6 separate regions of the Homo sapiens genome follow, and regions 1, 2, 3, 5 and 6 are each linked to region 4. Evidence: fine-mapped expression QTL. A gene starts in region 4. Each other region holds a variant in brackets. All regions are shown on one strand. Distances are between the middles of the regions.

Region 1 (4,086 bases), 44 kb before region 4:
TTTTTTTTTGAGATGGAGTCTCACTCTGTCACCCAGGCTGGAGTGCAGTGGCATGATCTCGGCTCACTGCAACCTCTGCCTCCCGGGTTCAAGCCATTCTCCTGCGTCAGCCTCCAGAGTAGCTGGGATTACAAGCGCGTGCCACCATGTGAAGCTAGTTTTTGTATTTTTAGTAGAGACGGGTTTCACCATGTCGGCCAGGCTGGTCTCGAACTCCTGACCTTGGATGATCCGCCTGCCTTGGCCTCCCAAAGTGGTGGGATTACAGGCATGAGCCACCGCACCCAGCCTGAACTAGTTTTATCCTTTGAAGCCAGCCCTTACCATCTCACGCCCCCTTCTCTTCCTCAGCAGTCCCTGGGCCTAGACAGAGGGTGCTTGATATGGTATAGCTTCAGCAACAGCTCCAGGAGACTTTGAATGAGAGAGATTTGAGAGATAAATGGCATTAATAATTTGAGTGGTAGAATTATAACGTACAGGCATAATGTGTCTGGAGTTGGTTCCTTTGGTGGTTTCGTGGTCTCGCTGACTTCAAGAATGAAGCCACGGACTTTTGCAGTGAGTGTTACAGCTCTCAAAGATGGCACACATCCAAAGGGTGAGCAGTAGCAAGGTTTATTGTGAAGAGCAAGAGAACAAAGCTTCCACACCATGGAAGGGGACCTGAGCAGGTTGTTGCTGCTGGCTGGGGTGGCCAGCTTTTATTCCCTATTTGTCCCCTCCCATGTTCCATTTTTGTCCCATCAGAGTGCCCTTTTTTCAATCCTCCCTGTGATTGGCTACTTTTAGGATCCTGCTGATTGGTGCATTTTACAGAGTGCAGATTGGTGTATTTTACAGAGCGCTGATTGGTGCATTTTACAATCCTCTTGCTAGCTACAGAGCGCTGATTGGTGCATTTTTACAGAGCGCTGATTGATGTGTTTTACGATCCCCTTGCTAGCTACAGAGCTCTGACTGGTGCGTTTTACAATCCTAGCTACAGAGCTCTGATTGGTGCGTTTTACAATCCTCTTGTAAGACAGAAAATTTCTGCAAGTCCCCACGCCACCCAGGAAGTCCAGCTGGCTTTGCCTCTCAACAAGAATTTATGCGCCCCTAACAGGAAGAAAGGAATCAACCCCATTAGGGAGCCAACTAAAACGATCATGAAGAAAATTACAACCTGGATCCTCTTTAGAGATGTGTAGCCAAGAGATAATTCAAGACTCAGTTTGAATTATAGGCAAAAAATAAAACTCAAGAACAGTGGTCGGGGCTGGAATTGCAGAACAAGTGTTTTCTTTTGAAACGTAATTTTTTTCATCTCTTTAGTTCCCCCTTTCTACCACAGAGAAATAATAATAAGACCAATTTGTGTACAAAATAAGTTTTAGTCTTATTCTATTTGGCTTGATCATTTGTGTAAATTGCAGCAGGAATAGCAGCTGGCCGTGTAGGCTCTTTTTAAATTGGCTTTGCTGGAACTTTATCGGAAAGTGTTATTTCAGTCAAAGGTCTTGTTAAAATAATATCCCCAAAGTGTCCTGTTACAAAAGAAAATGTATTCTTATTGAACTTATGCAAACCACCATATTGCTGTAAGTAAGAATGCTCATGAATAGTTTTTGAATTCTGGAGGTAGAAGGTAGAGAGAGAAAGCTGAACTTTGTTATTTTACTCAGTTTCTGTCACCTATAAATAGGTTAAAAGAAAAAAGGTTTTCTTGACTTTGGAAAACAAAACAAAGAATCAGTAACACTTTAAATACAAAGGCAATAAGCGCTGTTCAGTTCTGATAAGAACAGGAAAAGGAAGCTCACAGGTAGCTAAACATCTAAAGTATATAGTACTAAGACATAGAGCAAATTATATTAATTCAGATAGAGGGAAAACTATGAAATGTCTTAACGTCTTGGAGTATAAACCCAGCCCTGTGTCTCATGAAAGCCGTTCACTTCGATGGTTGTCTTCCCCCGGATCTGAAGACAAGGCTTTGGTTAGCTTGAGTTTGGTTTCAGATACCAGTGTGGAATGTTCAAGATTCAGCAGGAGTTGGTGCCTTTTTTAGGTGATGTGATACGGTTTGGCTGTGTGTCCCCACCCAAATCTCATCTCGAATTGTAATCCCCATGTGTTGAGGGAGGGACCTGGTGGGAGCTGATTGGGTCATGGGAGCTTGTTTCCCCCACGCTGTTCTCGTGATACTGAGTGAATTCTCTCGAGATCTGATGGTTCGATAAGGGGCTCTTCCCCCTT[T/C]GCTCTTTCTCTCTCCCCTGCCATGATGAACAGGATGAACGCAAAATTAAATTAAGACGTACCTTGCTTCCCCTTCACCTTCCACCATGATTCTAAGTTTCCTGAGGCTTCCCCAGCCATGGGGAACTGTGAGTTAATGAACCCTCTTTTGTTGATAAATTACCCCGTCTCAGGTAGTGTCTTTACAGCGTGTGAAATCAAACTCATACAGGCTCTCGGGGCATTTGTAGCTGCAATGCTCCCTGCCTGGGATGCCTTTCCTTTGCATCTTCCTCTGGCTGTCACCTCTTTTGTTTATAAATTACCCAGTCTCGGGCAGTTCTCTATAGCAGTGTGAAAACAGACTCATACTCTATGTGTGCCCAGGAGTCAACTCCCTGTAACTTGGTAGCACATGGATTTGTTAATAGTACCTTTTAAGGACCCTTCCAAAGTGCAGGGGAAAGAGTCCTGTAACTGATGTTTCTTCCAGTGTATGTAATCAGCAGGCTGGAGGTGGTGATTTTGGAGTTCATGACACAACTGGAAGCTGCAAAAAGATTTTACAGGCCAGGTGTGGAGGCTCACTCCTATAATCCCAGCACTTTGGGTTCACTTGAACCCAGGAGTTCGAGGCTGCGGTGAGCTATGACTGTGCCACTGCACTCCAGCCTGGGCAACAGAGTGAGACTCTGTCTCAAAAAAATATGTATAATCTCGTAATGATTCATTTTTATAGCTTTGATGATCCTGCCTGCAATAAGTCTAAGTGAGATGCTTAATGTAGGATTTGATTTTGAGGACTTTTGTGAAAGATGTTAAAAGGCTCAAAACATTTGATCAAAATAGAATCCTAGGTCATTGTAAAATAATAGTTACTCATGTAACCATTGCCATCTTCAATGGCAAGGCAGAAAGTTACATGGATGTAAAAACAAGCTCAGTTTTCATAAGCAATCAAAAAACCAAATAAAAATGACACTGGAAATTATCTTGATAAAATGCAAAATCTTCGTTTTTTGAGGCCAGTTACTCAAAAGGCAAAGAAACACCTTCTGCAGTCATTGTTTCTCCTCTGGAAGCCCATTGAGCTAACCTGCAAGTCAAACCTGATGAAAAAGGATATTTGAATTTAGTCAGGTGCAGGAAGAGTGTGTCTAGGGTCATGAGTGTACCTGATGTTATGGAGGAAAGGAAACAAGAAAACCAGCACCTTGAGCAGGGCAATGCATGACTCTTAGTAACAGCATGAGAAGTTTCCTGGCTATACTGAACAATGTATAACAAGAAAAGCCAAGAGTACAGAATCAAGTTATATGAAGGAAAACATTGCTTTTCTAGACCTTTAAGATCAACATTTCAGCATCAGGCCACAGCAGTAGTTACAATTGGAAAAGAAAGTTACAGGAGCTGATGAAAAAAAAGGCTGAAAGGGAAGGTTATCATCCCAACCAAGCAAAAAGATACACCTTGGCAAGGGCACAAGAACAGAAGGCAAGGATCAACACAGAATTAAACATCAATTTTTTTTTTTTTTGAGATGGAGTCTTGCTTTGTTACCAGGCTGGAGTGCAGTGGCACAATCTCGGCTCATTGCAACCTCCGCCTCCCAGGTTCAAGCGATTCTCCTGCCTCAGCCTCCTGAGCAGCTGGGATCACAGGTGTCCACCACCACGCCTGGCTAATTTTTGTATTTTTAGTAGAGACAGGGTTTCACCATGTTGGTCGGGCTGGTCTCGAACTTCTGACTTCAGGTGACCCACTTGCCTCGGCCTCGCAAAATGTTGAGATTACAGGTGTGAGCCACCGCGCCCACCTAAACATCAAATTTTATTAATAGCAAATTATTATTTTAACAAAACTTTT
Region 2 (4,086 bases), 230 kb after region 4:
TTTTTTTTTTTTTGAGACGGAGTCTCACTCTGACGCCCAGGCTGGAGTGCAGTGGCGCAATTTCCGCTCACTCCTTTGCCCATTTGTTAATGGGGTCGTTTGTTTTTTTGCATAAGTTCCCTGTAGATTCTGGATATTAGGCCTTTGTCAGATGCATAGTTTGCAAATAGTTTCTCTCATTCCGTAGGTTGTCTGTATTCTCTGTCAATAGTTTCTCTTGCTGTGCAGAAGCTCTTTCATTTAGTTAAGTTCTACTTGCCAATTTTTGTTTTTGTTGCAATTGTTTTTGGGAACTTAGCCAAAAATTCTTTGCCAAGGCCAACGTCAAGAAGAGTATTTCCTAGGTTATCTTCCAGGATCTTACAGTTTGAGGTCTTACATTGAAATCTTTAATATATTTTGAGTTAATTTTTGTATATGGTGAAAGGTAGGGGTCTGGCTTCAGTCTTCTGTATGTGGCTAGCTAGTTATTCCAACACCATATATTGAATAGGATGGTCTTTTTCCACTGCTGCTTTTGCTGGCCTTGTCAAAGATTGGATGGTTGTAGGTGTGTGGCTTTATTTCTGAGTTTTCTGTTCTGTTCATTGGTCTGTGAGTCTGTTTTTGTACCAGTACAGAAGCTGTTTTGGTTACTGGGGCTGTATAGTATAGTTTGAAGTTGAGTAGTGTGATGCCTCTGGCTTTGTTCTTTTTGCTTAGGATTGCTTTGGCTATTTGGGCTCTCTTTTCATTCCATATGAATTTTAGGATAGTTTCTTCTTGTTCTTAAATGCATTTTATAATTAACTTGTTTAGCTCTAAGAAAAAAACTTGATTTTGTATTGGAATAGCATTAAATTTAATATTTTTTAAAAATGTTTCATCTACTTCTAACTTACTGCAAAGAGTTTTATAAAGTTGCCTGTAATGATTTTTTAATGTTTTTCTTCATTTTTATAAAGGAAACATCCTTGTAACCACACCCAGGTCAAGGAATAGAACTTTATCAATCATCCCAGAAGCGCCCACCACATGTCCCATTTCTATTATAACCTACTTCCTCTCCTCAAAAATAACCACTTCCCAAACTCTTAATGGTAATCATTTCCCTAATCTTTATAGTTTTATCACCAAGTGTATATCCCTAGACACTATAGTTTAGTGTTGTTTTATTCTTAAAATTTGATATGTTTTTAAAGTCTCTTTTAATCTACACATTTTTCTCTCTATCCCTTTCTTTTCCTTATCTTTTACAATGTTTAAGTTTTCTTCTGTTAGCACTTGTAACTTTCTTATTTTTTTTTTTTCTAATCAGATACCTAGTGGTTTGTTTTGGTTGATTATTTTCTCTTGAGAGCCAGCTTTTGGATTTACTTCTTAGTTCTATTCTTTTTCTACTTAATAATATCTGCTTTTATTTGTAATAATTCACCCCTTTCTTTTGGTTCACTTATTCTTTTTCTGGCTTTTTCAGTTATATGTTTAAATAATTTATTTTTATTATTTAAATTTGTGTTGATATAGGTATTTAATGCTATAAAGTTTCCTGTGACAGTTACTTTTTTTCTGAGTCCTATAAATTCTCTATATATTTTCCCAGCCTTTTATAGCTGTATATCTTATATGCAGTATGGTGTTTGATTTTGCTTTGTGAGCCAATCCAAGACTGTTTTCCATTTAATAGGTGAGCCAAGTCCATTTTTTACATCACAGATAACAGGGAACCACCTTGTTCTATTTTATTTGCTTTTACCCTTTTGGTATTTAAGAGGGCTTTCTTCCTCCCTTTTTTTTCCCACTTTTATCCTAATGCCTTTATAGCAAACACTTAGTTTCTTTGGTTGGCTCCCCATAGTACCTGATACTGCAGTTAGCTGATGGACACCCCAGTCCCAGTTGGCTCCTGCACATCTTCTGCCCGCCCCTACCACTTCTCTGGTGGTTGTTCTTTGTCTGCATTGTCCAAGCTGGTAACCATGGCATGCTGCACTTTTATCACCGTCATGTGCCAGCAGCTCCACAGATAAATACAGACCACCTGCAGCTCACCTTTGCATCTGCCTCTAGTCATTTTGGTTTCTGGAGCTTATTCTTTAGTGGGTCATCCCTCAGCTCCTGGTCACTGTACTTCCTGTGTTTGTGTGTACTCATAAAAAATATGTGTGACTTTTACCCTTGATAGTCACTATTTAGATGTTAAATCTTTGGCTTATATTTTTTCCCTTAAATATCTTAAATATGTTACTGAACCTATTC[T/C]ATTCTGGACCTGTAATCCCTACTACAAAGCTACTCACAAGTCCAGTTTTCATCATTTCTGGACATGCATTCTTAAGGGGGAGGAATTTATAGAACTGGAAGCCATGTTAATATCCTAGTCATGAGGTGGCTGAGATTTAGTCTGTCCAGGTAAGATGGTGCAGGTAGGGAGTGTGGTGGTCCAAGTGGCACACGCAGGAAGTCACAGAATGTGGGAGGCATTGTTTTGTGTACCCTGTGCACAGAGTGTCTGATGCCCTTTGATAGGTTTGCGGCCTCATCTGGTGGACTTTCTGGCACAGCCCTTCCTCGAGGTTGCTGCATCTGAAGCTCTTTAAGACGGCGTTTCCCTTCTGCCAGATTGCACTCTGTGCACAGTGCGGTTGCTTCTCCCTGCGGAATGAGATGGGCCCACATAGGCAGTGGCTCCACCTGGCCTTGGTGCTCTTGCCGCCCTCTGCTCTGCTGCTCCCTTCGTGTAAGAAGGGTGTGTTAAGAGTCCGTAAGTGTGTCGTGTTAGATGTTTAGGAAGGAAATGTTAATTCTGAAAATAGGTTTCACATCTTTTTTTTAACTTATATAAAATTGACTGGACTTTCTCTTCTGTGTGTTGTGTTAGATATTTAGGAAGGAAATGTTAATTCTGAAAATAGGTTTCACATCTTTTTTTTAACTTATATAAAATTGACTGGACTTTCTCTTCTGGATTATCTTCTTATAATTAGAGACTAATAACACACTGATACGAAGTAGCTTTATATCAGGAAAATGGATAAATGTAAACATTTGCCTACCAGGAGAAAATAATACGACCTGATTGGAAAATGTACAGATAAAAAGCTAAGTTTAGTAGGTAGCCATTGATGAACACAGTCTAACTTAAGACAACAATTGGGGATTGTTAGAGCAGAGATTGTAGCTCCCTTCTGGGGAGGAGCTGACCAAAATGTCCTCCAGCTCCTGCTTGACAGAAGAGGTGCAGCCAAATTGATCCAAAGGAAATGTCAGAGGAGGCCAGGGTGGGAATTATCAGCAACTGTGTTTGAGGATTTGTTCCACTTTGTTTTGGTTTTGGTGAAATTATCACAGTCTGCATGTTATATGACCTTGGCACTTAGAGTCATGGCAACTTGTTGCATTTATGCGAGATTTTTTCTCCCTAAAGTCTCTTCTGTTTGATAGCATATATGTACCTTTCATAATCAATATCAAACTGAAGTAGCTTGAAAAGATAGATAATTTTATTCATTTTCTGGGATTCCATAACCACAAACTCGGTGGCTTAAAACCACAGAAATGTATGTCCTCACAATTCTGGAGGCCAGAAATCCAAAATCAAGGGCTCGGCAGGGTTGCTTCCTACTGGCAACTCAGGGAAGTTGAGTTTATGAGTATGTATTATTTTTTATTATGTGTAGTGTAGTACTTTAATAATTATTAAAAATTAAATCATTCACAAATGTTGGTCATTTTTCTTACTGGTAACAAAAGTTTTGTGACATATCTTACAGCAATATAGTTAAGAACTGATGCCCTTGATTAGCAATTTTAAAAACCGGAGGCTTATCCTAGCCTGTCTTATTTTCCTAGACTTGTGTGGAAATGATTTGAAGATGATGGCCCATAACAGCACATTTCTGTAAAGCCTGTGCTTAGAACCCTAGAGTGGTCTGGGAGATGAAGATTAAGACCTTGTTATCCATCTCTTAAGGAAAATACCATCAGAGGAAAATGCAAATCTTATTATAGGTCATCACTAGAATGAGGATTGTAATTTATAGAAATTGGGGTTTAATTATGAGAAATAGTTCCGTTCTTGGCTCTCGTTTACTTCTATTTGGAGATGTT
Region 3 (4,086 bases), 240 kb after region 4:
GAGTGACTGGCAGGTTGCTGGGCCTCGTGTAGCTGCGGGGGGGAGGGGGGGTCAGGAAGGGGATGGAGTACCAGGGGAACACGGCCACAGAGTGAACTTCCACATTCCTCCACACGAACATGCTGACGCCACGGGAGGCCTCACTGAACGCAGGCCTGGGGGCCGAGTACTTGGTCTGGGCAGGGGGTTCCTGGCAGGGGCTCACACCTCCTCGCCCCCTCCTCAGCCAAGGTGGCTTGGGCCCAGAGAAGGGGAGGTTGGAGAGGAGCAGAAGGCCAGGCCTCAAGTTTTTTTTTTTGTTTGTTTTGTTTTTTGTTTTTGAAATGTAGTTTGACTCTTGTCACCCAGGCTGGAGTGCAGTGGCACGATCTCAGTGGCCTTCATACCTGGCTACTTTTTTGTATTTTTACTGGAGGTGGGGTTTTGCCATGTTGGCCAGGCTGGTCTTGACCTCCCGACCTCAGGTGATCCACCCACCTCGGCCTCCCAAAATGGGATTACAGGCATGAGCCACCGCTCCCAACTTCATTCATTTTTACTTGAAAAACTCCCTTAAGCATTTTTTTTTTTTTTTTTTTTTGAGACGGAGTCTCGCTCTGTCGCCCAGGCTGGAGTGCAGTGGCGGGATCTCGGCTCACTGCAAGCTCCGCCTCCCGGGTTCACGCCATTCTCCTGCCTCAGCCTCCCAAGTAGCTGGGACTACAGGCGCCCGCCACTACGCCCGGCTAATTTTTTGTATTTTTAGTAGAGACGGGGTTTCACCGTTTTAGCCGGGATGGTCTCGATCTCCTGACCTCGTGATCCGCAGCATTTTTTTAAGGTAGACCTAGTGGTCCTGAATGCCCTCAGCTTTGTTTGTCGAGGAAACACGTTATTTCTTCTTTCTTTCTAAAGGACAGCTTTGTCAGACATAGTATTAGTTGCTGGCAGTTTTTTTCTTTCAGCACTTTGAATGTATTATTCGATTCTGTCCTGACCTGCAAAGTTTCTTTAACTTTTGACTATTTGATTATATTGTGACTTGGTGAGTATCTATTTGGTTTGAACCTCTTTAGGAATCTTTAAGCTTCATGGATTTAGATGTCTAAATCTTTCCCATGATTTAGGCAGTTTTCAGCCATTCTTTAAATGAGCTTTCTTCTCCTTTCTCTACTTTCCTTCTCAAACTCCCATAACCTGACAATGGTTTGCCTAATGGTGTCTTGTTGGCTTTCTTTTCTCTGTCTCTTTTTTTTTCTTTTTTTTTTTTTGAGACAGAGTCGTGCTCTGTCACCCAGGCTGGAGTGCAATGTGTGGTCTCGGCTCACATTGCACTCCAACCTCCGCCTCCTGGGTTCAAGCGATTCTCCTGCCTCAGCCTCCCAAGTAGCTGGGACTACAGGTGTGTGCCACCACACCAGGCTAATTTTTGTATTTTTAGTAGAGATGGGGTTTTGTCATGTTGGCCAGGCTGGTCTTGAACTCCTGACCTCTTAATCTGCCTGCCTCGGCCTCCCAAAGTGTTGGGATTACAGGCTTGAGCCACCACGCCCAGCCTTCTTTTCTCTTTTTTATTCTTTTTTTCTTTGTCCTCTGACTGGATAATTTCAGAAGATCTATATTCAAGTTTACAGATTCTCTCTCCTGTTGAAGTTTACTATTGTGTTATATCACCCAGTCTGGTCTTGAACTCCTGGGCTCAAGTGATCCTCCCACCTTGGCCTCCCAAAGTGCTGAGTTTACAAGCATGAGCCACTGCATCCGGTCAGTCCCAGCACTTTGGGAAGCTGACGTGGGAGGATCACTTGAGCTCAGGAGTTTGAGACCAGCCTGGGCAACATACTGAGAACTTGTCTCTATATTAAAAAAAAAAAAAAAAAGGTCTTTGGGAGGCCAAAGCGGGAGGATCACCTGAGGTCAGGAGTTCGAGACCAGCCTGGCCAACATGGCAAAACCCCATCTCTACTAAAAATACAAAAATTAGACAGGTGTGGTGGCACACGCCTGTAGTGGTGGTGCATGCCTATAGTCCCAGCTACTCAAGAGGCTGAGGCAGGAGAATCACTTGAACTGGGAGATGGAGGTTGCAGTGAGCTGAGATCGCACCAGTGCACTCCAGCCTGGGCAACAGAGTGAGACTCCATCTTATAAAAGGAAAAAAGAAAGAAAAGAAAAATTCCGTATCTGAGTGTTTACTCCTGAGTTTTTGAGATTGTTATTAAGATCGTGCTCTACTGTGATGATTTGGGTTTGTTTGATAATCACAAAAAAGCATATTCTTTTGGGTGTTCAGCCACACTCCTTTGGTGT[C/T]ACAACTGCACATTGGTTTCACAGCTGCAGGACAAATTCGAGCATCTTAAAATGATTCAACAGGAGGAGATAAGGAAGCTCGAGGAAGAGAAAAAACAACTGGAAGGAGAAATCATAGATTTTTATAAAATGAAAGCTGCCTCTGAAGCACTGCAGACTCAGCTGAGCACTGATACAAAGAAAGACAAACATCGTAAGAAGCAATAGTTTCTCTTACTATTCTGAGAGCCTTATCATTCTACATCCCATCTTCCTGTGAGATTGTCTTTGTAGCATTTAACTCTAATTGCAGTTCTCTTTTTAAAAATTGGCTTGCTTATTGTATATTTTCCCCAACTAAAGCGTGAACTCCTAGTAGGGCGTGATGGCTCATGCCTGTAATCTCAGCACTGTAGGAGGCCGAGGTGGGTCGACTACCTGAGGTCAGGAGTTCGAGACCAGCCTGACCAAGATGATGAAACGCTATCTCTACTAAAAATACAAAAATTAGCTAGGCGTGGTGGCTGGGACCTGTAATCCCAGCTACTTGGGAGGCTGAGGCAGGAGAATCACTTGAACCCTGGAGGTGGAGGTTGCAGTGAGCCGAGATCTCACCATTACACTCCAGCCTGGGCGACAAGAGCAAAACTCCATCTCAAAAAAAAAGGGTGAACTTGAAGGCAGGTCCTGTGTCCATCTTTTCAGATTCTGTATCCCAGCACTTGGGACATAGACAAACACGAAGATGACAATCAATATTTGCCAAAATGAAAAAACAAACATGTAACATCATGTAAAAGAAGCTGGTTAGCTGGAGAAATTTCTTTACCATAGTCTTGCTTGTGGATCCAGTAGTGACTTTTACATTTTATATCTAAATAGAAGCTGGAGGCTTTGTTGGGTACTCATAGGCATAAAATATTATGTTATTTATTATAGAGTTAAATGCTACAAAGACAAATCTAATTAATAGGCCTATTTTCCTTTTTAAGTTCTACTCATAATTTCTTCATAGTTTTTATGATAAAAGGTTGGATTTTGATTAGAACTCCCATGCTTTTGTGTCAGAATTAAAACTGGTATTAGAATAAATAATTCAAAAGCTAGAGAAAGAGTACAATGAGAAGCCATGAGTTGCATTTGAATTATAATATTATGTCTTACAGATTTGGGGTATATGCTAAAGTTACCAAAGTTGTAGAAAATAAGGCCGGGCATTGTGGCTCACATCTGTAATTCCAGCACTTTGGGAGGCCGAGGTAGACGGATCTTTTGAGGTCAGGAGTTCGAGACCAGCCTGGCCAACATGGTGAAACTCCGTCTGTACTAATAGTACAAAAATTAGCCAGGTGTGATGGTGTGCACCTGTAGTCCTTGCTACTCAGAAAGCTGAGGCAGGAGAATCGCTTGTACCCAGGAGGCAGAGGTTGCAGTGAGCAGAGATTGTGCCACTGCACTCCAGCCTGGGTGACAGAGTGCTATGAGTCACCACACCTGGTATGAGCCACCGTGCCTGGCCCACAATGACTTTTACACATGTTGTTAAATCATCTTACAGATTTTATAATTTGGGGGAAGAACAGTTTTACTAAATGGTCTTTTAATGGAAACTCTACAAGAACCAGAATCTTTGCTTTGTTCACTTATGTATCCATTCCTAGGCCTAGAAAAATGTCTGACACATAGCGGCAATTATTCATTGAATAAATGGACCCAGCGATAGTACATTAGCTATGCTATATGCATACATTAAAGATGTAGATTATTGACTTTCAAAAGATAATTAATGTAACTTCTTACTGCTGAATATGTTTGTGA
Region 4 (4,086 bases):
CTGGAGCAGAGGTTCGGGGATCTCCTTCCCTTTCCTTCTGGGGCCTGGGACTTTGTACCTCTGTACAGGAGAGGCAGCAGAGGGCTGGGGTCCTGGCGATGCCTCCACTCTGCCTCCCAGCCTTTGGGGAATGTCTCCACCTGTTATGGCAAGTGTCCCTGTTTGCCTGGGACTTTGGGGGCTAAATTGGAGGCCTTTCTCTTTTTCCCCAAGTTCTCCAGCACACTTAGAAGCATCCGCCCACCCAGCTACACCCCTAAATTTTTCCCTTGATGCCCAGGGCCAGGCATCCTATGGCCATTTGATTACAGATGTCTGCAGGTGGCAATCTGAGTGCCTGTATGCTACTCCTGTGGGCAGCTAGCACCCTGGTACCCCTGGGAACAGAGCGTGAATGCCTTTAAAGCTAGTTGGAGCAGAGAACCAATTCCAGACACCCAGAGACATTTAGATAACTCATTACTAGGGTCCTGGCCCTGGGATCACTCCCAGGACTAGTTCTGTGTCTGTCCAGGTGTGATCCAGGAGTGCAGTGACGGATGTGGATGTGGGATTGGCACAGGACTTCCGCCAGCAGAAGAAAGGAAGGGAGGGGAGGGGAAGAGAGGGCAGGGGAGCAGAGCGGAGGAGAGAGGGGAGCAGTCTTTCCAGCTGGGGCTGGCCTAGGCTGCTGGGTCATTTGGGAAGAAAAGGTGATTTGGACTCAGGGAGACTGAGGGTGCCCTCGGGCCAGCATCTGAGGAGAGTGACAGGGGTTTCCTGGCTCCACAGCCCCAGGTGGCCTTGGTGGGTGCAGGCAGAAAATGACCTTTTCAAGTCCAGTTCCAACCCAGAGGGGGTTCCTAGACCCAGCGCCAATCAAGGGGCACCAGGGAGGCAGCAGAGGTTCCCGCAAATCCAGAGCAGAGTGGCTGCCAGACACCCCACATCCTCTTCGCAGCAGACTGAAGGCCACCCCACACTTGGAGGAGCCCGGGTGAAGCATCTGGGGAAGACCCTCAGCCCTGGGAGAGTCCCTCCAGGGGTGAGCAGGTGGGCTGCCCCTCAGGGTGCGGCTCATTTCGATGTAAGTTTTATAAAATAAGAAAAGGCGCCCTATAGCACCCCTTTGGGAGCCTCGTGTCACCTCCAAACATATACCTCGCTTCCAGGTCAGAAGTAGTGAAATGACCATTGCCAATGCAAATGGAACTGCCTTAGGACACATGGGGGAGGTTAGGGCCTGCTGTGGGGCCTTATGGTGGGCCCCGAGGGGCCCCGCACACCTGTGCTCACCTCCCAGGTCATCGCTGGGCCGCCTCTGTCCCCTGGGAGGCTCTGCCTCGGGGAGCCCTCTTCCCAAGCTCCCAGCAATGACTTCCAGGCCTCCCTCAGCATCAAGAGGAGCCACGTCTTCTTCTTGTGACCCAGCAGTATAATTCACCCTAAATAATGGCAGAATGGGTTGTGTGTAGTCTTTAAAAGTCAAAACAATTTTGCACACAACAGGAGTCATTCAGCAGTGGCTAACACTCTCCTGACCTGTGTCGGCGCTGGGCTCCAAGGTGTACCTCCGCACGCATGGGGTTAACTACGCCCCCATGACCATTCCCTGCAGGAGGGGCGGGACAGAGGACTGCGTTATGTTTCTCCTAAAAGAAAATCATGAAAGTCACACACTCCAGGTGCCACACTTATTATGGAGGGAGGGAAAGCAGATGAGCGGGCGGGAAAACTAGCGGGCTTGCCACGCCCAGGCAGCGCTGCTCGGGTTTCCGCTTCCTCCGCCCCTTCCTTTTTCTCTGTGCATCCTCAGTGACGCGGGGCACAGCTCTGCCCGGGGGCCTACCAGAGCCCACCTGGACCCCACACTGGGTCAGCCCTGGTGCGGAGGAGGCCGCTGTAGGTGGGCACGGGGCAGCACGCGTTAAGGGGCTGGACGGGGGGTGGCCATGCGTGTGAGGGCGCTGAGCAGGGGCGTGCCCATACGTGTGAGGGGGCTGGGTAGGGGCGTGGCCCAGCGTGTGTGTGTGTGTGTGTGTGTGTGTGTGTGTGTGTGTGTGTGTGTGGCTGGACAGGGGTGTGGCCACGCGCGAGGGGGCCGTGCAGGGGGCGTGGCCACGAGCGAGGAGACTAAGGGGCGTGGTCACGCGTGTGAGGGGCTGGGCTAGAGGAGTGGCCCTGTGTGCGGGGGCTGGACGGGGGCGTGGTCATGTGCGAGGAGGCTGAACAGGGGGCGTGACCACGTGTGGAAGGGGGCTGATCGGAGGTGTGGCCACATGTAAGGGGGCTGGGCAGGGGGTGTGGCCACGTGTGAGGGGGGGCTGGGCCGGGGCGTGGCCACACGTGTGCTGGCTCTGCTGTGGGCTTCCTTCCCTTCCTGTGCAGGTGGTGGTGCCCTCTGCGCCTTCACTGGGGCCCAGCCAAGTAACTGAATCCAGCCAGGAGCAAGGGCAGACGCTGGCACAGGTCCTGCCACTGTCCCCAACCTGGGTTTCAACACAGCTGAGGCCTGGCATAGTCTTTCTGGGCGCCTCTGGCTGGCTCGGTCTGAAAGGTGGGACAGATGCAACTGGGGCCTCCCCGGGTGCAGCGTGGGTGGCTCCTGGCTGGGGAAGTGAGAAGCCCTCCGTGCGGTGTCTCTGAAGCAGCCCCAGGCCAAGGCTGTGGCGTGCTTGGTGGTGCTGTAGGCCCAAGATGTTTATGGGTCGAGGGTCCCCGGGGCCGGGATTCTGATCCCTGGTGAGAGGTGGCTGGGAGGAAGTCCAGACGTGTCCTGAGTGGCCATTCCTCACACTGAGGTGACACCGCCTCTCCAAACACGTGACGTGGCTGGAAGCAGATGCTGCTGTCCGGTTCTCCCTCCTCTCCGTCCCTGGCTGGGACATGTGGATCTCACCCGCAGCCACTTTCTTCTGGCCTCTGTCCCCCTGCCTGGGACACGTGGACCTCACCCCCAGTCTCCTTCTCTCCTCTGCCCCCCGCAGGCGCGGCCAGGTCACAGTCGGCACCAGAAGTTTGGCAGATCTCAGTGAGGCGTTAGTTTGCATTTCCTTGTGACGGGTGAGTTGAACACCCTTTCATGAGTGTATTGATCACTGTGTACCTTCTTTGTTGAAATGTCGTCAGTATTTAAAGTCACAAATCTTCCTCTAAGACTATGCTACAATTTTTGTGTAATATTTTGATGGATATTTGAAATAAGTGCTAATTTTCTTTGGATTTCTTCTTTGACCCATGCTTTATTTAGAAGAATCTCTTTATGTGTGTATTTATTTTTTAAACCCTCTATTCTGAGAAGCATATTTAGAAGAGTATTGCCCACTTTCCAAATATGTGGAGAGTCTAAAAGGAATCTTGCTATTACTGATTTAATTCCATTTTGATCAAGGAACAAACTGCAGGATCTCACTTTTTAAAATTACAGAGACTTATTCTTACTGTTTAACATAAGCCCTATCTTTGTAAATGCTCCGTATACACTCAAAAATTACTTGTGTTCTGCAGCTGTGGGGTGGGATGCTCGCCAAGAGTTAATGAGGTGCAGCTGGTTGACAGTGCTCTTTAAACCGGCGAATCCTTCCTGTCCCACCCGCTGTGCTTGCAGTCCCGAGAGAGCTGTTACATCTCCAACTAGGACAGTGAATTTCTCTATTCTTTCAGTTCCGTCCGTTTTTACTTCGTGTTTTTTGAAACTGTTATTATCTTTTTAGGCATTTAGGATTTTTCTGTGATCCTGACAGTGGCTGACCATGGTGTCATCATGGAATGTCCCTCTTTATCTTCAGGGGTGCTACCTGGTCTAATGTGAGTGTTCCAGGGCTATTTTCTTATGCACAGAATTGGCACTGTGTATCTTTTCCTTTTTCTATTCTTTTTTCTTTTTTTTTTCTTTTTCAGACAGAGTCTTGCTCCATTGCCCAAGCTGGAGTGCAGTGGCGCGATCTTGGCTCGCTGCAAGCTCCACCTCTCGGGTTCACGCCATTCTCCTGCCTTAGCCTCCCGAGTAGCTGGGACCACAGGCACCCGCCACCACGCCTGGCTAATTTTTTTGTATTTTTTTTAGTAGAGACGGGGTTTCACCGTGTTAGCCAGGATGGTCTTTAT
Region 5 (4,086 bases), 68 kb after region 4:
TGCAGCCTCCTGGACCCTGGCTCCGAGTCAGATGAGGGTTCTCATCTGGTTCTTGCAGAGTCTCCTGCTGAGCCTGGTCTTCTGTCCACACCTGGGTGGTGGAGGGCGCCCCAGGAGCCTCTTTCTCCCCCTGCATGGGAGGCCGGGTCTGCTCAGCCAGCGCCCTCACCTGCGGTCGGTGAGCTGTGCACGGGGAAGCAGAGCCTGGCGGCCACGTCGGCCTCCTGTGAGAGGGTCGAGGGCTCCAGCCCCGAATGGGACTTGAGCAGTGCTTCGGCGACGTGTCTGTGTGTGTTCATGTGTGTGTCTGTGTGGTGTGTATGTCTGTGTCTATATGTGATTGTGTGTCTACGTGTGATCATGTGTGATTGTGTCTGTGTGATGTGTGGGTCTGTGTGTGATAATGTGTAATCGTGTGTGTCTCTGTGTGTGTCTGTGTGTGATGTGTAATCATGTGTGTCTCTGTGTGTGATTGTGTCTGTGTGTGATGTGTAATCATGTGTGTCTCTGTGTGTGTGTGTGATTGTGTCCGTGTGTGATCATGTGTCTGTGCATAATGATGTGTGTGTCTTGGTGTGTGATGGTATGTTTGATTGTGCATGTGTCTGTGTGTGATTCTGTGTGTGTGATGGTGTCTGCACATGTGATTGTGTCTGTGTGTGTGATGTGTGACCGTGTCTGTGTGGCTGCACGTGTATGTGTCTATGTGTGTATGTGTGATGGTGTGTCTGGTGTGATGGTGTGTGATTGTGTGTGCGTGATGGTGTGTGAGTGACTGCATGGGTGTGATGGTGTGTGTCTGTGTGTGATTGTGTGTGATGGGGTGGATGTGTGATTTTGTGTGATGGTGTGTCATTGTATGTCTGTGTGACTGTACGTGTGTGTGAGGTGGGTGAGCAGGGCTGCGGGGCACAGGGCAGAGGAGAAAGGTTGCATGTGGGGGTTGATCCCTGGCTGGAGGAGGCTGGAGAAGCCCTGGTGGGCAGGGACGCGGTGGCCTCTCCGGACCCCTTTGCTGCAGCATCACAGAAGGAGACGCAGTCTCTGTCCAGCTTGTGGGCACGGAGCTCCCACTCTGGATCTTCTCACTCTTCGATGCTAAGGGGGCGGCTCCCGGAGGGTGGGCTGGTTGCCAGTAGAACCGGTGCGGGTCAGCCCGGCGCACCCAACCCCACCCCACCCGAGAGGGAGAGGCCCGGATGGGGTCAGTCCCCAGAGGCCTGTGGCCTAATCGGTCATGTCTGGAACCCCATAAAAAACCCCAAATGAGGGTCCAGGGGCCTGCATGGCAGTGACCATGGTGGTTCCCGGAGGCCCCCCAACCTCTCTTTTGCCTGGCGTGTGCCTCTCCCAGGCGGGTGACAGTGAGGCGCCTCCACGTCCTGGGAGCTGTTCTGCTGAATCTGGAAGCCGGGGGCCAGGGGTGCTCCATGTACCGTGGGCGTTGGAAGTGGGGGCGTCTTGTGGGCTCAATGCCTGTGGAGAGTGGGTGAGCCCTCCCTGGGCCGGGTGGGAGTTGAGGACTTACTGGTGTGAGAAGAAACCTGTACAGCCGCGGTCAGGGGGCCGTGGGGAGAGCAGCACCGGGGACCCCACCTCACAAGGGGGACGGAGGCAGAGGGAGCCAGGGGAGGCAGGAGCCCTGGCTTGGGGTGTGCTTTGGGTGAGGTCCTCTCATCTCTTATGTGCCCCCTCATCCTCGCTGGCCCTAACTCCAGTTCCCAAATTGCTCTGAGGGAGGACTAAAGTTCCAGAAAGGCTGTGTGAGCCAGCCACCAGTGCCAGCACGAAGCTGCGGGGACCACAGCACCCCTTGTCCTGGGAGGTGCCTGCTCCCCCACAGCCTGTCCCCCCGAGAGGAGCCAGGCTCCCCCCATCTCCCATGCCCTTAGAGGAGCCACGCTCGCCCCAACCCCCATCCTTCCTGGAAGGAGCCGTGCTCCTCCTATCCCCCGGAATCCTCCTTAAGAGAGGCCATGATCCTCGGTCCTCCTGTCCTCCCTGAAAAGGGCTGTGCTTCCCCTGTCTCCATCTTTCCTGACCACAGGTGCTCCACCTGGCCTGTGCTGGAGGCTGGGAGGGTGGGCCTAAAGGGGGAGTCTGTGTGAGGGAAGCGTGTCCCTGTGTGTGTGTGCATGAATATGTGCACACATGCGGCTGTGTGGGT[G/A]TGTTTCTCTGTTTCTGTGTGCATGGGTCCGTGCATGAGCACAGGTGTGCATGTGTGTGTCTGTGTGCATGGGTCCGTGTGCGAGCACAGGTGTGCATGCGTGTGTCTGTGTGCATGGGTCCGTGTGTGAGCACAGGTGTGCATGGGTCCATGTGTGAGCACAGGTGTGCATGTGTGTGTGCACACGTGTCTGTGTGCGCATGCTGTCTCAGGGCTTGTCTGTGCGTACAAGTGTCTTTCTGTGTTTCATGGTTGTGTGTGAACACACGTGTGTGTCTGCATATATGCCTGTGTTTTCCCGTGTCTGTGTGTGCGTGTGTTTGGGGTGGGTAAGGCTCCATTGTTTAGGACGTGTGTGACCTGCCTCGCCATCTCCCCTGCCATCCTCTGGGTCATTCTTGCACAACAGTGACCTGCTGTTTGGAGCCGAATGGGCACAGTGAATAATGCGTTTCATTTATTTTCACAAACCTGTGGTTGCAAAGCCAGCGTGAGACGCAGGTGAGGCCGTCACACCCCTCGTCCTGGCGGAATCCACGCCTCCTTGGGCCCCTGCTGCCAGGACCCCACACCTCTTTAGAGTAAATAAACCTTGGCGTAGGGGCAGTTTACGGAAACGAGAGAATTGTGTAACCATCGACCCTGTGGACAGGTTTGACTCTTGGGTTTGAAGAACCACGGTGACGTCTTCCTGATGCCGCTGCCTCCTCTTGTCAGTGAAGGGAGTGGGACTCGCCGGAGAAAGAAGCGAAGGCTCCAGCCCCGGCTGGATGAACCCTGCAGCTGGTCCTCACCGTCTCGGGAGGCAGCTCCGGCTTCTGTCCACTAGGTGGAGCGCTTGCTGTTTGCGATGAAATCGTGGAGCCTTGAAAATTCCCAGGCTGGCGAAAGGCTAAGGGGCATTGGGGGTCAGCAGGCGGGGCCCGTGCTGGTTGGAGCTGCTGGGGCTGAGATGGAATGGCGATGCCATTGGGGTATTCCCTGTGGGAATGCAGCTGCCGTCCGCAAGCCCCCGCGACCTTTCTCCAGGCAGAATGTGGAGCCCCGAGTGGGGTTAGGGCCGTGTGCTGCAGGGCGGGGCCTCGCCTGGTCGCGTGGCAGCCTCGAGGTTTGTTGCAGGTGATGGGGTGAGGAGCAGCTGGGCCCCACTAGCTCTTGGCCGCATTGTCCCTCCTTTCACCCCCAGAAGTTACCCCTGCACTGTAAACCCCATGGGGCATTGAGCCTCCTATTTTCTTCTCCTGCTTCACAAGTTTAGAGTGTTTGCTTAAATGCAATGCTTAAAGCCGCCCAGATGTTTGAGAAGATAAGTTCAGTGAGAAACAGGAGGCTTCACCTCAAAGCATTTAAGGCTGCTGTGAGAAATTATCCCCATCCTTAAAAGCCTCCAGATGTTTGAAACTCCTGTTTTGTGTAAAATAACAGCAACAAATAAGTAAAAACAAAAACCTCCATACCGACTGCATTCCTTTCAAGTGTTTAACTGTTTAACTTCAAAGTCAGAAGTGCCCTAAACTCAAAAACGGCACCAACAACTACTTGAGTGGGACTCTTTTGTTTGCAGTCATCAGGAACTCAATTCAAGCTGATAAAAGCCAGAAAAAGAATGTCATTGAAGGGGCAGGGGTTGTTGATGTATGCAATTACTAACTGCAAAGGGGCATTCAGGAATGGGTGGATCTAGGGGCTTCAGTGGTCTCTATCTCTTACCCATGCCTTCCTCTGAAATGAGTCCCCCAGATTTCTCCTCCTGCCAGCTCCTGGCAGCCACGGTCATTTCTTTGCAGCCTCAAGTCTACTCTGAGATTTCCTCTTCCCAGCAGTTCAAACAGGAGCCTCTGATTGAGACGCTGGCACTGGCTGGGGCCTTGTGCCCACCTCTGAGCCCATCACTGCAGTGGGGCATTGGGTGCTCTCAT
Region 6 (4,086 bases), 280 kb after region 4:
TTTTAAAAAAATAAAAAAATAAACAAACTCATCTCTGAAGGTCCAGGTGATTTTTATGTTTTACAGAAAGTTTTGTGAAGAGATGACAGAAAGGGTTATATCACATCCACACAGCAATAACTCCTCAAAAGCAACTTTTGGCCGGGTGTGGTGGCTCATGCCTGCAATCCCAGCACTTTCAGGGGCCGAGGCGGGAGGATCGCTTGTGCTTAGGAGTTTGAGACTAGCCTGGGCAACATAGCAAGTCCCTGTCTCTACTTAAAAAAGAAAAAAAAAATGAGCCAGATGTGGTGGCACGCAGCTGTAGTCCCAGCTACATGGAAGACTGAGGTGGTAGGATCACTTGAGCCAGGAGGTTGAGGCTACAGTGAGCCATGATCACACCACTGCACTCCACCCTGGGTGACAGAGTGAGACCCTGTCTCAAACTTTTTTAAAAGGCCAGGCATGGTGGCTCATACCCATAATCCCAGTACTTTGGGAGGCCAAGGTGGGTGGATCACTTGAGCCCAGGAATTTGAGACCAGCCTGGGCAACATGGTGAAACCCCATCTCTACTAAAAGTCAAAAAAATTAGGTAGGTGTGTTGGTATACATTTGTAGTCTTGGCTCCTTGGAAGGCTGATGTGGGAGGATTGCTTAAGCCTAGGAGGTCGAGGCTACAGTGAGCCATGATTGCACCGTTGCATTCCAGCCTGGGCAAGAGTGAAACCCTGTCTCTCTCTGTCTCTGTCTGTCTCTCTCTCTCTCTGTCTCTTTCTCTCTCTCTGTGTCTCTCTCTCTCTCTCTCACACACACACACACACAACTTATAAGCATCTCTTGTTTCTCCTAAAATTACCCTTCTAGCATTAGCTGTCCCATTAAAATTCTAATAGGCTTTTTTGTGGACATCTGCAAATTAATTATAAAATTTATATGGAAATGCAAAGGGCCAAGTAAGGGCCCTTAAAAGGGACAAAAATGGGAGAAATTACTAGATACCATGGCTCACCATAAAAGCTGCCTTGATTAAGACAGTGTGGCAGTGGTCAGCAAACAGTGGTCTGCCCCTGGGCCAACTCTGCCCACCATCTGTTTCTGTATGGCCCATGAAGCAAGAATGATTTTTACATTTTTAAATGGTTGAAAATAATTGATTGGTGGGGACAATGCTGGTGGAGTCTGAAGTTGTCATGCAGTGACTCACTCAAGGTTAGGCAGATTTGGTGATATATGACACAGAGATGCAAAGAAATGCTGTAGCTGACACACACAGGGTGGCTCTGGGAGATGCAGAAGGAGCATGTCACCCAAAATAGAGCCAGATAGACATCTTTAAGGAAGGAGCAAAGGGGCTGCATCTTAAAGAATGAAGAAGGGATTTGTCATGAGAGATGGGGCAGGAAGTTCTTGAGAGGCAGAGGGAGAGCATGAGAATGCTGGGAAGGGAGGAGAGATTCTCACACATCTGGGAAGCTGACAATTCATCAGCATGTCCGGAAGGAAAATAAGGAGGAGGAGCAGAAATAGATGAGGCTGGATATAGAAGCAGGGCTGAAGCTGTGTTGATCGTGGTAAAGAGTTGTGATTCTATCCAGAAGGCAATAGGTAGCATTCTAAACAGAGATCTCTTAAAACAAGAGTCAGCAAATATTTTCTGCAAAGGGCTAAATGTTAAATATTTTAAGTTTTCCAAGCCATATGGTCTCTCTCTTAATGACTCAGGTCTTCCATTATACCATGAAAGTAACCAGAGACGTTTTTTAACACATGTA[T/C]TGGCTGTGTCCCATTACAACTTTACTTACAAACGCAGACTGTGTCAGACCTGGTCCATGCATGGTAGTTTGCCACACCCTGTTTTAGAAAGCTCAGGTTTATGATGTGATGGAGAATGCCTACAAGAGCTCTTGTTTTAAATGGTAGAGTGAATATACACTGGAATTCTATCCTGCTTGACCCAAGCTCTTGATAGCGAAAGGTAGAAAAGATAGATAGTAAATAGATAGATAGATGATAGGCAGGTAGATAGATAGATGATAGATAAAGAAAATACATAGCTGTTCCAGAAAACAGAAATGGATAATTTCATGAACCAAAAGCAGAGTAATATACTTTAGAAAGGAAGCAGGCTGGAAGACCCACAGTTGCAAAGCAAATAGAATTTCCAACTGCCTCTTGTAGCCCCTTCCTGGAAGTAGTCACAGCCCAGGGTGTTCAACTTCTTCCTCTGTTTTTTGTTTGTTTGTTGTTTGCTTTTCTGTGGGGTTTTTGTTGTTGTTGTTTGCTTTTTAAAAAAAATCCCTTTCCCTGCTTTTTTGTCACAGCAGCCTTTGTCACTTCAAACACCGCAAGTGTTCTTTAAAAAAAATTATATCAACCTTTCAACTAAAATGCAACATGTCTGAAACTTGGTATCTGGAGAGGTGAGAGGGACAAAGGAGCCGTTGTTACTGCACGTTTTCATTCTCCAAACTTCACCTTGCACACAGTAACAGACAATGCACAAAGCTACTTCCTTATGGACGGAAATTCTGAAATCCTTTTATGCCTGGCCTTTCCATCCTTCAACTTCCCCTCTCCCATGCTGTGAGTGATTGTATTGGACATTTTTGTTTTAATCTCAGTGACAGGGGAACACAGATAGCTCTAATATAGCTGTGACCCAGATGCTTCTGTTTCTAGCATGTATTAATTTTGCAGCAAACATTACATCCATAATTTTTCACTGTCCTTTGAAAATAATTAGGCAATATCTCATCTGAGGTAGGATGTTTCTAGGGGTTGTGTTCTGAGTGAGAAAAACTAATCTGTTCTCTTTCCACTGCATTCTAGGAACAGTAAGAGGACCTTGTGCATGAATAATTTGTTTCCACACTGCAGAGTGGGTAATAAGCAGATTAGTAAAAACAATTCTGCTTCACTTCAATAACAGCCTCCTCCAACTCATTTTTTCTCAACAAACTTATTTTTGCAGCAGAAGAATCCCAGACTTCTTAGAGAACCCAGTGACTTTTTGCACCTTAAATCTGTGAAATCCTCATGCTTTCTTCTGCCGTATCCATCGTTCAAACAAACATGAGGCAAAGCTAGACACATTCCTGAAGGAACCCAAGAAATTCCTCTCTTTCTCTCTCTGGAATGAAATGAATTCTCTAGACCACCAGTTCTAACCTTCAAAAACCAAACCTGTTTGTGAGATCTCCTTCAAATACTACTGTAGACCCCAGTGTTTATTCATTAAATTTTTTAAATATTTGTTTTATTTGGAATCAAAGTATTTGTAATTTTAGTATTTGTATTAATATAAGGGAGAAATGTTTAAATCTGTCTATGCCATATGTGCCTTCGGCTTATTGCCCAATTAATTGTAGCCTCAGGCTAAACTTTGGTTTCTGTCTTTAATTTTTGTCGGAAGAAATATAACCGGTCTCAAAACATCTGCTTTTATTGTAGGGACTCGTGCTGCCATCTCCATTCCTCTCTCTTTTCTTGCAATCTGGGTGGAAGTTCTTTAATATGAACATTTCAACCACCTTCACTCTACCATGTCCACTATCAGCACATTCAAACGTATCCAGCCAAGGGTATCATCTTAGGCCAGGGATTTTTTAGGAATCTATTTTGCTGTGATGCACCTGGTACCCCTTTGACTCACTTTATCACCCCAGGGTTCTTTTCATTTTAGAAGCCCAAGAGGGCAGAAAAAGAAGTAGGTGAGCAATTAAACTCTCCAAGTCAGGAGCGTCTCCCCTTGTGTTAAGCAATGTTGTAGAACATCGTATTTAGCAAGCTCCTAGCAGATGAGCCACGTGGCTGCTGAGCACACACGCCTGCTTGCTGCTGTGAGCTCAGACACCATCATTATGTCTTTTTCACCTCTGGAGGGAATTGTAAGCGCCACTTAATAACCTGTAAATCGTAGAGAGTTAAAGGTGTTTCCCTAAAACACTGATGACAGAATGAAAGGTAAGGAGTGTTAGCCACAGGTCAAAAGTGCAGGAAAGTCTCTCTATGTGGGTTGTTGAAGAAATGCAGGTCTTTTTTCTTTTGGAAGTCTCCCTAGAATGGGGTCAAGGACTCTGCCCATTCTAGGATGAAAAACTG

The links. PIP is the estimated chance that this variant, and not a neighbour inherited with it, causes the effect.
Region 1: its variant is fine-mapped to the expression of LINC01237 in whole blood (TOPMed, PIP above 0.99).
Region 2: its variant is fine-mapped to the expression of LINC01237 in whole blood (TOPMed, PIP above 0.99).
Region 3: its variant is fine-mapped to the expression of LINC01237 in whole blood (TOPMed, PIP above 0.99). The same link has a PIP of 0.9 or more in T cells, blood mononuclear cells, breast, lung and pituitary.
Region 5: its variant is fine-mapped to the expression of LINC01237 in whole blood (INTERVAL, PIP above 0.99).
Region 6: its variant is fine-mapped to the expression of LINC01237 in tibial artery (GTEx, PIP above 0.99). The same link has a PIP of 0.9 or more in vagina.

Annotation. Positions count from the first base shown.
Region 1 is chr2:241,835,252-241,839,337 of GRCh38, forward strand. No RefSeq gene overlaps it. Among named protein-coding and RNA genes, the nearest start is that of PDCD1, 22 kb to the right of the region's middle. The variant T/C (reference allele first, on the strand shown) is at 2,242.
Region 2 is chr2:242,107,331-242,111,416 of GRCh38, forward strand. All of the region lies in intron 2 of LINC01881 (long intergenic non-protein coding RNA 1881), which reads left to right. Among named protein-coding and RNA genes, the nearest start is that of LINC01881, 21 kb to the left of the region's middle. The variant T/C (reference allele first, on the strand shown) is at 2,239.
Region 3 is chr2:242,119,974-242,124,059 of GRCh38, forward strand. The region is part of intron 3 of LINC01881 (long intergenic non-protein coding RNA 1881); the gene reads left to right. It also overlaps the pseudogene CICP10 and the pseudogene SEPTIN14P2. Among named protein-coding and RNA genes, the nearest start is that of LINC01881, 33 kb to the left of the region's middle. The variant C/T (reference allele first, on the strand shown) is at 2,290.
Region 4 is chr2:241,879,594-241,883,679 of GRCh38, forward strand. LINC01237 (long intergenic non-protein coding RNA 1237) reads left to right here and starts at 1,770. Exons shown (of 4, transcript NR_110220.1): 1 at 1,770-1,885; 2 at 2,967-3,042. It overlaps LOC105373978 (a long non-coding RNA gene), which reads right to left and starts at 1,734. Exons shown (of 3, transcript XR_924077.3): 1 at 1,522-1,734; 2 at 1,276-1,424. RefSeq lists an enhancer at 1,200-1,790.
Region 5 is chr2:241,947,989-241,952,074 of GRCh38, forward strand. All of the region lies in intron 2 of LINC01237 (long intergenic non-protein coding RNA 1237), which reads left to right. Among named protein-coding and RNA genes, the nearest start is that of LINC01238, 21 kb to the right of the region's middle. RefSeq lists enhancers at 2,024-2,672, 2,673-3,320. The variant G/A (reference allele first, on the strand shown) is at 2,168.
Region 6 is chr2:242,164,231-242,168,316 of GRCh38, forward strand. No RefSeq gene overlaps it. Among named protein-coding and RNA genes, the nearest start is that of LINC01881, 78 kb to the left of the region's middle. The variant T/C (reference allele first, on the strand shown) is at 1,758.